Homo sapiens: one gene and its partner. The protein of the gene in region 1 interacts with the protein of each later gene in a biochemical or structural test. Each region holds a gene or a part of one and is shown on either strand. Other genes may lie near its edges.

Evidence for each region. The genes of interacting proteins can lie anywhere in the genome.
Region 2: of the proteins of GSK3B (region 1) and HDAC4, one has a biochemical effect on the other in vitro, tested with the Homo sapiens proteins (one study listed by BioGRID).

Annotation. Positions count from the first base shown.
Region 1 is NC_000003.12:120,003,948-120,007,447, reverse strand, and holds part of GSK3B (glycogen synthase kinase-3 beta), read left to right. Parts: intron 1-3,500. UniProt on the Homo sapiens protein: Constitutively active protein kinase that acts as a negative regulator in the hormonal control of glucose homeostasis, Wnt signaling and regulation of transcription factors and microtubules, by phosphorylating and inactivating glycogen synthase (GYS1 or GYS2), EIF2B, CTNNB1/beta-catenin, APC, AXIN1, DPYSL2/CRMP2, JUN, NFATC1/NFATC, MAPT/TAU and MACF1.
Region 2 is NC_000002.12:239,394,521-239,398,020, reverse strand, and holds part of HDAC4 (histone deacetylase 4), read left to right. Parts: intron 1-3,500. UniProt on the Homo sapiens protein: Responsible for the deacetylation of lysine residues on the N-terminal part of the core histones (H2A, H2B, H3 and H4).

The sequences.
Region 1 (3,500 bases):
GCCAGATATCATTTGGTATCAGGATGATGCTAGCCTCATAAAATGAGTTAGGGAGGATTCCCCTTTTTTCTATTGATTGGAACAGTTTCAGAAGGAATGATACCAGCTCCTCTTTGTACCTCTGGTAGAATTCGGCTGTGAATTTGTCTGGTCCTGGACTTTTTTTGGTTGGTAGGCTATTAATTATTGCCTAAATTTCAGAACCTGTTATTGATCTATTCAGAGATTCGACTTCCTGGTTTAGTCTTGGGAGGGTGTATGTGTCCAGGAATTTATCCATTTCTTGTAGATTTTCTAGTTTATTTGCGTAGAGGTGTTTATAGTATTCTCTGATAGTAGTTTGTATTTCTGTGGGATCAGTGGTGATCCCCTTTATCATTTTTTATTGCATCTATTTGATTCTTCTCTCGTTTCTTCTTTATTAGTGTTGCTAATGGTCTATTTTGTTGATCTTTCAAAAAATCAGCTCCTGGATTCATTTATTTTTTTTTTTGAAGGTTTTTTTTCTGTCTCTATCTCTTTCACTTCTGCTCTGATCTTAGTTATTTCTTGTCTTCTGCGAGGTTTTGAATTTGTTTGCTCTTGCTTGTCTAGTTCTTTTAATTGTGATGTTAGGATGTTGATTTAGATCTCTCCTGCTTTCTCTTGTGGGCATTTAGTGCTCTAAGTTTCCCTCTAAACACTGCTTTAAATGTGTTCCAGAGATTCTGGTATGTTGTGTCTTTGTTCTCATTAGTTTCAAATAACTTATTTCTTTCTGTCTTAATTTCGTTATTTACCAAGTAGTCATTCAGGAGCAGGTTGTTCAGTTTCCATGCAGTTGTGTGGTTTTGAATGAGATTCTTAATGCTGAGTTCTAATTTGATTGCACTGTGGTCTGAGAGACAGTTTGTTGTGATTTCTGTTCTTTTACATTTGCTGAGGAGTGCTTTACTTCCAATTATGTGGTCAATTTTAGAATAAGTGGGATGTGGTGCTGAGAAGAATGTATATTCTGTTTATTTGGGGTGCAGAGTTCTGTAGGTGTCTATTAGGTCCGCTTGGTCCAAAGCTGAGTTCAAGTCCTGAGTATCCTTGTTAATTTTCTGTCTCCTTGATCTGTCTAATATTGACAGTGGGGTGTTAAAGTCTCCCATTATTATTGTGTGGGAGTCTCAGTCTCTTTGTAGGTCTCCAAGGACTTGCTTTATGAATCTGGGTGCTCTTGTATTGGGTGCATATATTTTAGGATAGTTAGCTCTTCTTGTTGAATTGATCACTTTACCATTATGTAATGGCCCTCTTTGTCTCTTTTGATCTTCGTTGGTTTAAAGTCTATTTTATCAGAGACCAGGATTTTTTTTTGCTTTCCATTTGCTTGGTAGATCTTTCTCCATCCCTTTATTTTGAGCCTATGTGTGTCTTTGCACGTGAGATGGGTCTCCTGAATACAGCACATTGATGGGTCTTGAGTCTTTATCCAGTTTGCCAGCCTGTGTCTTTTAATTGGGGAATTTAGCCCATTTACATTTAAGGTTAATATTGTTATATGTGAATTTGATCCTGTCATTATGATGCTAGCTGGTTATTTTGCCCATTAATTGATGCAATTTCTTCTTAGCATCGATGGTCTTTATAATTTGGCATGTTTTTGCAATGGCTGCTACCGGTTGTTGCTATCCATGTTTAGTGCTTCCTTCAGGAGCTCTTGTAAGGCAGGCCTGGTGGTGACAAAATCTCTCAGCATTTGCTTGTCCGTAAAGGATTTTATTTCTCCTTCACTTATGAAGCTTAGTTTGGCGGGATATGAAATTCTGGGTTGAAAATTCTTTTCTTTAAGAATGTTGAATATTTTCCCCCTACTCTCTTCTGGCTTGTAGAGTTTCTGCCGAGAGATCTGCTGTTAGTCTGATGGCCTTCCCTTTGTGGGTAACCCAACCTTTCTCTGGCTGCCCTTAACATTTTTTCCTTCATTTAAACCTTGGTGAATCTGACAATTATGTGTCTTGGGGTTGCTCTTCTTGAGGAGTATCTTTGTGGTGGTCTCTGTATTTCCTGAATTTGAATGTTGGCCTGCCTTGCTATGTTGGGGAAGTTCTCCTGGTGAATATCCTTAAGAGTGGTTTCTAACTTGATTCCATTCTCCCCATCACTTTCAGGTACACCATTCAAACGTAGATTTGGTCTTTTCACATAATGCCGTATTTCTTGAAGGCTTTGTTCATTTCTTTTCACTCTTTTTTTTCTAATCTTGTCTTCTCGCTTTATTTCATTAATTTGATCTTCAGTCACTGATATCCTTTCTTCTGCTTGATTGAATCAGCTACTGAAGCTTGTGTATGCTTCACCATGTTCTCATACTCTGGTTTTCAGCTTCATCAGGTCATTTAAGCTCTTCTCTACACTGTTTATTCTAGTTAGCCATTCGTCTAACCTTTTGTCAAGGTTTTTAGCTTCCTTGCAATGGGTTAGAACATACTTCTTTAACTTGGAGAAGTTTGTTATTACTGACCTTCTGAAGCCTACTTCTGTCATCTTGTCAAACTCATTCTGCATCCAGTTTTGTTCCCTTGCTGGCGAGTAGTTGTGTTTCTTTGGAGGAGAAGAGGCGTTATGGTTTTTGGAATTTTCAACCTTTCTGCTGTGGTTTCTCCCCATCTTTGTGGTTTTATCTATCTTTGGTCTTTGATGTTGGTGGCCTACGTATGGGGTTTTGGTGTGGATGTCCTTTGTGTTGATGTTGATGCTGTTCCTTTCTGTTTGTTAGTTTTCCTTCTAACAGTCAGGTACCTTAGCTGCAGGTCTATTGGAGTTTGCTAGAGGTCCACTCCAGACCCTGTTTGCCTGGGTATCACCAGAGGAGGCTGCAGAACAGCAGATATTGCTGCCTGATCCTTCCTCTGGATGCTTCGTCCCAGAGGGGCACCCACCTGTATGAGGTGTCTGTTGGCCATTACTGGGAGATATCTCCCAGTCAGGCTACACAGGGGTCAGGGAACCACTTGGATAACAGTCTGTCCCTTATCGGGAGCTGAAACGCCATGCTGGGAGAACCATTGCTGTCTTCAGAGCTGTCAGGCAGGGACGTTTAAGTCTGCAGAAGCTGTCTGCTGCCTTTTGTTCAGATATGCCCTGCCCCCAGAGGTGGAATCTAGAGAGGCAGTAGGCCTTGCTCAGCTGTGGTGGTCTCTGCCGAGTTTGAGCTTCCCTGCTGCTTTGTTTACACTGTGAGCATAGAACTGCCTACTCAAGCCTCAGCAATGGCAAACGCCCCTCCCCCCACCAAGCTCCCACATCTTAGGTTGATCTCAGACTGCTGTGCTGGCAGCGAACAAGGCTGTGTGGGCGTGGGACCCGCCGAGTCAGGCATGGGAGGGGATCTTCTGGTCTGCCTGTTGCGAAGAGCATTGGGAAAGTGCAGTATTTGGGCAGGAGTGTATCGCTCCTCCAGGTACAGCCACTCATGCCTTCCCTTGGGTAGGAAAGGGAAATCCCCCAACCCTTTGCACTTCCCAGGTGAG
Region 2 (3,500 bases), on another chromosome or scaffold:
AACCGAGACTGAGCCCCTGCCCTGTTGTTGGCAGCCCCCAGTCTGTCCTGGGGTAAGGAGTCGGAAAGGATGGATTTGGAGGGAGTGTTTGTTTTGATTTCAGGTGGTCAGCATATGCCCTGCCGTGTGGTGGGCTCTGGGTTTTTGGCCTTGACGTTAGAGGCGGGTACTGCACCTTCTGGTTCAGGTCAGATGAGGGGTGCCATGTCAAAAGTGATGCTACCTTTGAACAGACCTTAACTCATTCATAAGCGTTTCTGTGGGAACAAGTGTCACTAAGGTCAGTAAGTTCTCTTCATACGGTCAGTTTTCTTCTCTTGGGCTTCTGTGCGTGGGAAGAGTGGGACCTGTTTTGGGGTGGCATGAGGGCCATGGTGCCTGCAGCATTAAATGGCCATGTCCCCTTGCTGCAGCCTCACTGACAAACCTCCTACTCACTTCCTAGAAGGAGGGTCAGGGTCCTACATGTCCCCTTGCTGTGGCCTTGCTGACACACCTCCTACTCACTTCCTGGAAGGAAGGTCGGGGTCCTGCATAGATTGCCCCCACCGTGACTTCCTGTATCACTGTCGGGGGATGAGGATGTATCCTGGAGCAAGGAGATGATGCCACGAGCAGCTGTCACGTGCTCCCGTAGCTGACGCCAGATGAGCACCTGCTTGGGGCTCGTGCTGTTTCATGCACTCACCATGTAGGTGTCAGCACAGTCCTGCAGGTGGGCTCTACCTCTGGAGGAACTGGGGGTAGAATGAAATGGACCATGTGCCACCCCCTGCATCTCCAGTCCCAAAGGCCAGTTCCTCTCCGTGCCTCTGCTTCTAGGCTGGTGGTGACCTTGAAGCTGAAGTTCAGCTTGTCGAGGTGCTTGGGCGAACACAGCCTCTTAGAGAAGAGGACGATTTGGAATACCTTTCTAGTTCAGTGTCGTTAGACTTTCTAGTGCTGTGTTGACTGTTCTTGGCGCTGTTACAGGCGCGTTTCATAGGTCTGGGCAGTACTTCTGGCTTTCTCATGCTGTCTTATGTCACGTGTGGGACTGCAGAACTAGAAGACATCATGTTCTTCTCCTGCAAAGTCCCCAGGACGCCTGGAGGCAGGTGGGGGTGACGGAAGGGAGCTAATGCTCCAAGTCCACTTCAGCCGGAGCAGCTTTTAGTGTTTGTTGTTCGGTCTGTTGATTACCTTGGAAGATTTTATTGGAAGAAAGCATTTGAGGACCAAGTTAATCTACTCTTTCAATACCAACCCAGAAACCTTAAAGAAAATCTTGACAGATTTAATAGGATAAGAGTTTTTTAAAAAATCTCTTTGGCAAAAGACTCCGTCAGCCGGGCTAAGAGACGAGAGAGAAAATACATACCACATTATGCCTGTGTAAGCTTAACAGTCAATATATAAAGAGCTTTTACAGACCAATAAGGAGAGCATGAGATCACCATTGCAAGATGAGCAGAACGTATGAACATTGAATCATTGTGCCAGTGATGAAAGGTTAGCATTACTAATCAATTCAGTGTGAAGGAGATTCCCTTTATGCCTATCATATTGGCGAGTTTGATGATACCTGTTGCTGGTCATAATAATAATTTCTATTTTGTAAGGTTTTTGCAAAGTTTAAGTTAATGTATGGAAATTTCCTTGAATAGGGCCTGGCATGTAGTAAGCATGATATAAATGTTGGCTGTTATTTATTATCATTTGCTCTCTGGAGAGACCCATATGTATTATTATATAAAATATAATAGGGCTGGGCGAGGTACCTTATGCCTGTAATCCCAGAACTTTGGGAGGCCAAGGTGAGAGGATCACTTGAGCCCAGGAGTTCAAGACCAGCCTGGGCAACATAGTGAGACCCTCATCTCTACAAAAAAAAAAAAAAAATCAGGCATGACGTCGTGTGCCTGTAGTCCCCATTACTTGGGAGGCTGTGGCAGGAGAATCACGTGAGCCTGGAAAGTCAAGGTTGCAGTGAGGTGTGATTTTGCCACTGCACTTCAGCCTGAGTGACACAGCGAGACCCTGGGCTGTCCCCCCCAAAAAAGTTTATATATGTAATGTATAAACATAAAATAGTGATTACCGAATTGCTCTCTAGAAAAGTCTTAAGTGTCAAAATCTTAAATGCCATTCTCCTTGTCCCCACAGTTCTACATTTTGAAATCTATTCTAAGGAAAGAAGATAAGTGTGTAGATATCCAGACGTGTGTGGAGGTCGGGGCTGCATTATTTATAAAAGGAGTACTTGTTAAACCTGCTGGCATTTCTGCACTGTGGCATCCTCCATGTGTAGACAGGCAGAAGTGTGCAGTGTAAGAGGGAAAGGCGGGGTCTGGAGCAGTCCCCGGGCCACTCCTGGTTTTAAGTACATGGGTCTCTAAGGTAACCATCAGAGGTGAGGAGACGGGGTACACTTTTCTTTTATACATGGTGGTATTGTAGAGATTCTTTTGGTAAGCGTGTATTACTTTTTTACAGTAGTAATTTGAAAACATTTAGATATCTTCATTGGAAAGAAAAGTACTCTTTAAGTCCTTGGCAAGTTGATAAATATGCTTTGCAATAGAAGAATTTAGGGGCATTTGTTTTTCTAACTCACATGTAAGCTCTTCAAGGTGGGGACTGACCCTCGGGGTCTGAGCGGGCTCTGCTACAGCCCATCCTACAAACAGTCTCCCAGGTTTCCACCAGAAGCAGGTTTGTACCTCTCATTCCCTTGCTTGAAACCCTGGCATGACTTTCCTGTATTCTTAGGATCCTAAGGTCTCAGGGCCCTGGAAGGCCTGCCTGATCCTGGCCTCTGTTTTACCAGCCTCATCTGATAGCACTTGCTGTGTTTGTGGAGTTTCAGCTGCCACCTGCTTTACTTTCTAGCTCTCTCTAAGTCCCCTTTGACCTCGGGGCCTTTGCACACACTGTTCCCCTTCCTTGGAATGGCCTCCCTTTACCTTCCTCTTCTCCAGCCCCTCAGTTCATGCTCATCCTCTCATCCTTTGATCCCCTGTTAAACTTAGCCTAATAGCTTTTTTCCTCCTTTCTAACAGCATCCCATTGTGCAATTTCAGGAAGGAGCTCATTGTGACCTTAGTTGTTTAATGCCACCTTTTCTACTAGCTGGGGCTCTGTAGGATTGAGGGGCCCTGAGGGCCTCATGCCTGCTCTGTACCCTGTGCTTGGCAGTGTAGGTGCTCGAAGAATGAAAGAAAATGAATGAGTGAATGAATGAATGGATGAGTAGGTAGCCCAGTGAATGGCACAATGCGGGCCTTGGGTGGGAGAGCTGGGGTGAGGCCCCACCTCTGGCCTGGCCCCTCTGCGGGGTTCTTGCCAGTGCTCTGGAATTGCCTGTTTCCTGACACCCCCTGCCCCCATCTGGGAACTTCTTGGTCCTGATTTTGGAGATTACATGCTCCTAAGGAGATGTCATAAATGCAAGTGGAGGGAATTCTGTGATGCAGAAAGGAATGGGAGGGAGAAGGGCCTTCAACACAGCTGTCGAGTGG